Linked DNA regions of Homo sapiens: region 2 is linked to region 1. Evidence: fine-mapped expression QTL. A gene starts in region 1. The other region holds a variant in brackets. All regions are shown on one strand. Distances are between the middles of the regions.

Evidence for each region. PIP is the estimated chance that this variant, and not a neighbour inherited with it, causes the effect.
Region 2: its variant is the best candidate, but not a certain one, in a credible set for the expression of PI15 in anterior cingulate cortex (GTEx, PIP 0.60).

The regions. Positions count from the first base shown.
Region 1 is chr8:74,822,788-74,827,192 of GRCh38, reverse strand. It overlaps PI15 (peptidase inhibitor 15), which reads right to left and starts at 2,659. Exons shown (of 6, transcript NM_015886.5): 1 at 2,518-2,659; 2 at 1,671-1,983. The coding sequence starts at 1,943.
Region 2 is chr8:74,463,088-74,467,492 of GRCh38, reverse strand. It overlaps a transcript of GDAP1 not described here. Among named protein-coding and RNA genes, the nearest start is that of MIR5681A, 83 kb to the left of the region's middle. The variant C/T (reference allele first, on the strand shown) is at 2,555.

The sequences.
Region 1 (4,405 bases):
AAGTAAGCAGCAGAGTTAGGATTTGAACCCAGATGAGCTCACCTTCAAAGCTGGCTCAGCAGTCTTGGTTCTCACTTTAGAGTCATGTGATTGCTACAAATTCTCTAAACTCATAGTTGGGATATTATGCCTTTCTGAGCTTGCATGGTATCTTAGGCATATTTATTTCATCATTTTAGTAATTTTAAAAATGTGTTTGCTCATCTAATTTTTACATATTTACATCACCTTCTAAAAACATCTCTTCTGTATGGGTAACTTTTTGTCTTTAGATCTTGAATGAGTTTTCACTGGGCACCTTTCACAAGAAGTTCAAAGAAACCCATCAAAACTAATGTTTGTTGAACATCTAGTTAGCAACAGGCTCTGGTCTGATTACTCGTCAACTCATACATTTCTCACAACAATGCTGTGTGGCAGATACCACCTTTATCTTCATATTAGAGATGATGAAAATGAAACAGTGTGGTAATGAGTTCATTCAGCATATACTTCAGGACTAGGATTCAAACCCAAGCATTTAGATTATATAGCCCATATTCTTAATCATGAGACTATACTGCTCCTCACACACCAGGACTGATTACATCTTCTCTGTCTTTATAAATTCTAGGAAAATGCATTTTCACAGAGTCTAAATTGTACTTCTATGAACTGTGACTCTGTTACATCATTTAGCAAGTCTTTAGTTTTCCTGTGACATTGGCATCTGCAACTAGCCAAACTTTTTAATATAACTTATTTACATAAAACAAGTGAATCTAGAATATGATAAAAATCCCAAATTTTAATTCAGCACATATAAAACTGTTAGTGGTACCCCCTCCCCTCACCCCAATTTGGAAATACCATATTGATGGTCTTCATTGCCTTAAACAGGCTCCAAGCTGTGCTCTTGTAAGACGCTGGACTTTAAATCATAACCTTGCATAAATTCAAAACCAAATAAAAATTTTAACAAGACTTTTTCCTTTCAATACTAACTTTTTTTTTTACTTTCTAAGTAAAATGATTTAAACATTGTCTATTTTTAAGAAAGAGCAAAAAATGTGTTCACGGCAAGTTGGAACAGTGTGCAAATGCACTGGCTTCACTGTTATCTGGACAGCAAAGCATTAAATCACAAGGAGAAAAAAGTCAGCATGTTCTCTTAGAATACAAATAGGTTAGCGTCAGTAAGAACTTTGTCCAAAAAAGGGAAAAGACACCTACCCAGAGAATAAATCATGCATATGAAACCTATAATTTTAAGAAGTATTTTCAAGAAATGATATAGCTGATAAATATGACTGTGAGATAAAGCACAGAAAAAGTTCATGTGACTTTTTTTAAAGTGGACCTTCCAAATGTGATCAGTCAACATACCCCACTTTTTATCTATGATTCTTACATAAGATACAATTCACCAGTAGCTATGGAACTCACAGAAGAAAGTCTACATAGATTCTCTCTATCTGTCTGTCTCTGTCTCTCTGGACCTCTCTGTCTCTCTGATTCTGTGATGCAACAGTACTCAACATTATTAGGCACATAAGAACCTTAGGTTAAAATATGTAAAAAGTCCATATACCCGGACATATAAACACTCGTGGTCGTTTGAGATTCTGCAGATGTACAATATAAAGCTTTCTCACTCAGAACTTAAAAAAAAAAAAAAGAATTCTTCTTACCATATATTCCATATTTGCTGCCGGTGGGAACACTTTGCCCCGAACTTGATTATGATAATCAAGAATGGCGATCATGTCATTCTGCGAAATGTAGCGCTTCCGCCTGGCTTTGGGGATATCCGCTGAATCTAATTGTGCTTTCAGAGCTGCTTCAATATCAGTGAAATTATTGGTTGGCGGGGATGAGTCAGTGGAATTGAGTAGGACGACGGTACTTGCTTCACAGAGAAGGGAGAACAGGAGTGCACTGCTGACGGCAGAGATTGCTATCATTTTGAGGGGTGGAGAAGAAGAGGCCACCGAGTTTACTTTGCTTTAAAGCAGAAAGGTAGAGTTAGGGTCTATGAAAAAAAATAGGGCCAGAGGGTATGAATTTACAAAGACATCATTTGGGAGCATTGCTTGATTTGACTTTCTTCAAAAATCCAAACAAATGTTGAACTCAAGCCTAGGAGATAACCTACAGTAGAATCTCTATTCATTTTTTAGTGTCATGAGGCAGACCCCTAAGAGGAACTTTGTATAGCAGAGAAAAATAAACAGCATGACCACTAACCCTAAAATGAATGTGAACCATTTGCCCCAAATGTCTGAACCACAAAATATATTACTGCATATTTTCAGTGGGAAATTTTCAGCAATTGAAATTCACCTGGAGAGTGAAGAAAAAATGAATCACAGGTAACAACAGAGAATGTGCTGATAATGTCTGCCAGACATATAGACACACCAAGTGATAGAACACATACAAAAAAGTCATAGTAATCCAATCTCATTTCTTTAAAAAAATGTGAGCTACTTTAAAATCAATGCATGCAATATAAACTTGTTGAGCTAAATAGCTTACCTCTGCACAATGCCAAAATGAATATATTGTTCTTCCAAAAATTTAAGGTTCTTTGCTATGTGGTAGCATGAACTCTTGTAAGAGGAGTGTGTCTTTTTACAAACTCTCTGAGAGCAAAGCTCTGCAAGGTTTGAATGCTGCTGGCTAGAGGAGCAGCTAACAGCTTTTATATGTCACAGTTTGCAACGTCCAGAAAGGGCAGTCTTTCTAAGGGTCTCTCTTAGCCAAAATCAAAGGGGAGGGGTTTGGGGTAGAAAAAAACAGTGATTGGGTGGCAACCTTTTTATGTGGGTGGTGAGGAAATTGAGTCACACCCACAGCTTACAAAGTACAAGCCATAAAAGACAAACCCCTTTTTCTCTGGGCTTCCACCTTTTCTGTGAGTAATTTCTCTCATTTTATGCTTTCTAGTTCCTGGTTCCCATACAAAAAAGAAGAAACAAAGACAAAAAAAAAAAAGACTGTGGGTTCATGAAAAAACAGACAGTTGAGTAACAAGCAGTACATTTTTTTAAGACAGTAAATGACATGGGAGCTAAAAAGAACAAGCTGATATTAAATCAAGAGATCAGCTAACATAGTTAATCTGGGTGGCCACAAATATGATTCGAGAGGGATGCCAGGCAAATCGGTAGTAACCAAACTATAGCATATGATATTAGGATAATAGATGCTCAAGTGGCTGTGTTCTCTGCTTCCATGTGGCTGCATTCCTGTGCTTTATATATTTCTTCTTCTCTCTCTTATTTTACCTTCTCTCCCTTTTTTCTTTCTCTACAGAGTGAGGTCAGAAATTACTTGCTTTTTACCTGCCTTGTATAAAATGTGAATAGAGAAGCTCATGGCAAATGACAGCAGCCAAGATAACATCTGTTTCAGGTTTAGAGCATATAGTTGAAATTTTAAGCAGAGAATAGCTCAGCCTCTCAGGAAATGTATTAGAGGGCATAACACAGAGGCCATGAAGAATTTTAACAGCAGCAGCAGCTGCCAACAATTAGAAGTGCCTTGTTAGGAGGATGTCACAGGGGCAAAGTCTATGTCAGGCAAAGCAAGAAGAAGAATGTGAACATTGGTGCTCTATAATGAAAGGACCCTCCCCAAAATGCGTCATGATCTCATTAACAAAATGTGGACCACTTACAGTCAGTAGCAATAGGAATCCTGGAAAACACACGCTCTTCAGTTTAGAAACTTACTTAACTTACACTGATTTTTTCCAGCTTGCTAATGTGATTGTCTCCCACATGTTTCAGCAGAAGAAATACTATGTGAATTTACAGTCATCAGAAATGATGGTCATGTGGCACACTGGACAGGCAGCCAAGTTTCCTAGGATATATTCCCAGTTGGATCACGAGTAGTATGTGTGGTCAAATGCATACTGTTTAACTCTTCATTGGTGCACCTAAAAATGGGAGAGAAAAGATTCACGTTCTATGGTGAGACAGACATCATCAAGTTCTTTAAGAGGGTAGTGAGGTGTACCAGAGGTGTCACTAAAATTCAAACTACAGTGATGAGATACAGACTTTATAATAATATATACCAAAGTCCAGGTTTTGACACATTTTGATGACTATTCAACTCCTAACTAAAGTGAAATCATTTTAGGAGAGCCATAGCTGAAATATTGAGAGCTTTAAACAAGGAATTAATACTAAACTTGAAAAGGCATAAACAGATATATAAACTCAGGAGGTGAGCAAGGATATTATGAAACATTGGAGCAACTAGAGGAAATTCACATGGTTGTTCACAGCTGCAGATCTTAACAAGTGGAGCTGTCCAACTAGGGTTGCACCACTTTGGAAAGTATTCATGGCACCTTCAATGAATCTCAAATATGCTATATTAAGGATTCCTGAATTAAATCAGAGGTTAGATG
Region 2 (4,405 bases), 360 kb after region 1:
GGATCAATCATTATACTCTCTCTCTCAAATAAGCCCTCAAACCCCTTGCCCTCTCTTTCTTCATCACACTTTGAACTTATGTCACAGTGGTTAAATCTAGCTGCTTATCTGTTCCACACTTGAACCAGGGAAGCTGAACCTGGCTCAGAAACCATTTAACCATGCTAAGTGTTCTCACTTTAATTCATGACTCATGATCACTAAGCTCCAGTAAGCAATGATGCTCGCCAATGATATGATTAACCTATTCCATTTGATCTTCCACTCTCTAAGACAGCTATTCTATCCCTTCTCCTTTCTCCTCAAACTTCCAACTCCTTCTCTACTGCTGTCCCTCTCAGCTGATGGCTTTGCTTCTATTTCACTGAGAAGACAGAAACAATAAAAAGAGAACTTTGATAATCTTCATATATAAATACCTACCTTCATTAATCCCCATATCCTCTACTCTTTTCCCTATTCCTATGTATAAGCTGTCTGTGTTCCTAATGCCAGCCCTTAACTAGGGCTATGGATTAGAGTCCGTGATTCCTTATTGAGTAATTCTTCCCTTTCAGCAGCAGCATCTATTCCCCTCTATCTGAGTCTCTCCCAGCAGTGCATAAATCTGCTGTCATTTGTCTTGAATATCTCCTCTCTATAGCCAACTCCCTTGGAGATGTCACTCAGTCTCCTGCCTGCAAATACATAGTGATGATTCACAAATGTACGTATCTCTAGATCAGAACTCTCACCTGCACACCAGACCCTGGCTTCCTATTTAACGTTTTTACTTGGATATCTAATCAGCGCCTTCAAATTTAACATGTAAAAACTGTTCCTATTTTTCCCCTACCCCTATTAAAATTGTTAGTCTATCCTTCCAGTTATCAAACCAATAAATTCAGAGTTATCCTTGATCTGTCCTCCACAACTGTAATCCAATCTATCAGCGAATCTTGCAAGCTCTATCTTCAACATATCTATGCAGCACTCCTTCTCATTGCCCAACTATTACCACTCCAGTCTAGGCCACCATTAGCTCTCACCATTGGCTCTCAATTACTGTGGTAGCCTGTTAACTGATCTTCACACATCTACCTTCGTCCTCTTCAGTTTTTTTCTCCACAAAGCCAAAGTAAATCTGTTAAAATCTAACTCAAATCAGATCACGTTTCCCTAAAACCCTCCAAAGCTATGGTTCCCAAACTGTGTTCCAAGGAACCCTGGGGCCCTGCAGTGAACTCCCTGGGGTGCTTTGAGATGTCTTAAATTTTTCAGAGAGAAATCCAGAGATACTCAATATCCTTTGGATACAAGGTGAGCTAGATCACACTACATTTTTTTATGAAGTCATATCTTTGCAAAGCATATTTTAAGCATGATTTAAGCATATTTTGCTCTGATAAAAAGCACGTCCCTCTGAAAAGAAACAATGTGGAACAGAAAATGAGTATGGCAGTATCCAATCTGATTCCAAAGTTTGAGAGTCTGCGCTATAAGCAAGGGATGCAGACATCATATTAATAAATGTGATTAGTTAAGAATGAAATTAAAATGTTCTTCAATTTATGTGTTTTTTAAAAATAGCTAATAAGTTGTTAGGACAAATAAATACCAAGTTCTCTGCTCATAACTATTTAATAAATAACACTGCTAGGTCTCTCTTTTGGCCTAGAAGTATGATGAAAAATTCCAGATTAAGTGGCCCTAAATTGATTAAAAAAAAAAAAAAACTTGGTGTGATTAAAGAACTGAAAATTATCAGTGTGCCTGAAGCAGGGAAGAGTGACTGACAAGCAGTTTGGAGAGGGAGCCAGGGCCAGATCTTGCAGAACAGCAGAGCATCAGAAGCCATAGTGGGGAATTTTAATGCTATGCTAAGAGCAATTGGAGGCTTGAGGTTATTTTAAGCAGATGAGTAATTTGACCAGACTTACAATTTTAAATGATCAAGCTGCTCGATGGAGACTGTGTTGGGGAAAGATGAGAAGGAGAAGTGGAGAACCTATCAGGCTATCATCTAGTCCAGAGAACTTGGTGGCTTGAACTCTGTGGGGCAGTGGAGGTGGAAGGGAAGGGAGACCAGCAGTACTTTGTAGGTAAAATTTATAAGGCTTGGCGAGAGATTGCATGAAAGGGGTAAGGGAAGCAGGTGTATCAAGAATGACTCCTAAACTTCTGGCTTGAGCAAGTGGGTGCGCCTACCTGAAATAAAGATAGGGAGGAACTAGTTTCAGGCAGAATAGCACGGCTTAGGTTTATTTTTTTTTATTTTTATTTATTTATTTTTGGAGAGGAGTCTCGCTCTGTCACCCAGGCTGGAGTGCAAGTGGTGCTATCTCAGCTCACTGCAACCTCCGTCTCCCGGGTTTAAGCAATTCTCCTGCCTCAGCCTCCCAAGTAACTGGGACTACAGGAGCACGCTACCACGCCCAGCTAACTTGTTGTATTTTAGTAGAGGTGGGCTTTCACCATGTTGCCCAGGCTGGTCTCGAACTCCTGAGCTCAAGCAATCTACCCGCCTTGGCCTCCCAAAGTGCTAGGATTACAGGCATGAGCCACCATGCCTGGC[C/T]GACAGCTTAAGTTTAGATGTTTTAAATTTAAGATACTTATTTACAATTAAATTTAAAAGGTGATATCTTAAATTGTAAGTATCTTGGAAGATACTTACAATTTAAGATGACAGTAGGCAGGTATTTAGGTTTGAATATGAAATTAATATCCCTTTCCCTAAATATGGCATGACTGTCCATTCCCCCTCAGTCTTTGTCTGACGGAGTTATTCTTATCTCTAGCAATACTCTTAGCATATACAATCACATCCAGGCCCAACTCAAAGGCATCCTGCCAAGACAGCATATTAGGGGCTCCATCTGGAAGTGTGCACAAAATGTAGTATGCTGTTATAAAACCAGCATTCAGGGTGTCTAGATGGACGCAGGGACAACCATATGTTTTTCAGTTTCCACACTATTCCTTGAAAACAAACTTGCTTCATTGGGCTTTTGCCAGCCAGCCTTCCTAGCCCCTTCCAATTGCTCCTCCCTTAGGGTTGCACATTGTTCTTATTTCAATTGCTGTTGCTTAGGGTCTTACAGAAAACCAAGCAAACCACTAAAATATGACCCTGTTCCCCACTGACTTTGAATTTTACTGCAGCCTGGATCCCTCTGCTATAATGCTACAACTTATCAAGTCACCATGAATTGAAGTAGCTTAAATTAACCCGGAATTTGACACTCCCCTATTGGCACTGTATTTTGGACTGTCTGCCAACTATGAGTGCCAGTTTTTTCTACTTTGACTAATCATTCCACACTTTGGGGTTCTAGCATGCCTCACCCAAACCTGTTTTGTTGATAAAAGTCTCCATGTCTTTTCTCTTTCCTTCTGGAAACCCAGATTTGTCCTTTAAAATCCCACTCAGGCACCAGCAGCACCTTCATTTATTCTCTCTTGGGATGGTATTGTTAAACATATTAGAACTAAATATTTCCTCCACATTTCCTTTAGTTGTTTCATAGCATTTCTCTTGATATAGCAGGTACATACGTATTTATGGATTTTTTCCCTTTATGCTAGATATTTCAGTAATTTGGCCTCTACTAAATAAATCCCGCCATCATGTAGTCATTTGTATTGATTTGTGCTTATATACAGCCAACTCTATTTGCATAAATGACTACAATACACAGAAGTTTTGATTACTATTACAATTACTGAATTGCTTTCTTGTAATTGTGGTAGTAACCATTTTAAGGTTGATATTCCAATTTCTACATATGTTTAGTTTCTCTACCTATGTCTTACTTATTTCTATTAAATTAGACAGTTTCTCTCCAAAGCTACATATGTCTTACACTTATTTCTATTAAATTAGATGTGTGCTTATTAGACAGTTTAATAAAGCAGAGGAACAACCTCTGCTTTATTAAAACTTTCCATAGCAGAATGCACTTTCCTGCAGCAAGAATCCTTTGATCCACTTTGGACACATTCCAGCATATTGTGTAGCACCTCTGTTAAAATACTATTTTTGTTTTTTTTTTTGAGACAGGGTCTCGCTCTGTCACCCAAGCTGGAGTGCAGTGGTGTAATCATAGCTCACCGCAGCCTAGAACTCCCGGGCTCAAGCAGCAATCCTCATATATCACCCTTCTGAGTAGCTGGGACCACAAGTGCACAATACCACATCCCGCTAATTTATTTTTTTATTTTTTTAATACATATGGGGTCTCCCTATGTTCCTAAGGCTGGTCTCAAATTCCTAGGCTCAAGCAATCCTTCTACCATGGCCTCCCAAAGTGCTGGGATTATAGGCATAAGCCACCACACCTATCCTAAAATATTCTTGAAGTCATGCTTACTGTGCTACATCAATTTGTTTCAGCCCACAACTGAGGATCAATCTTAGAAATGTTAT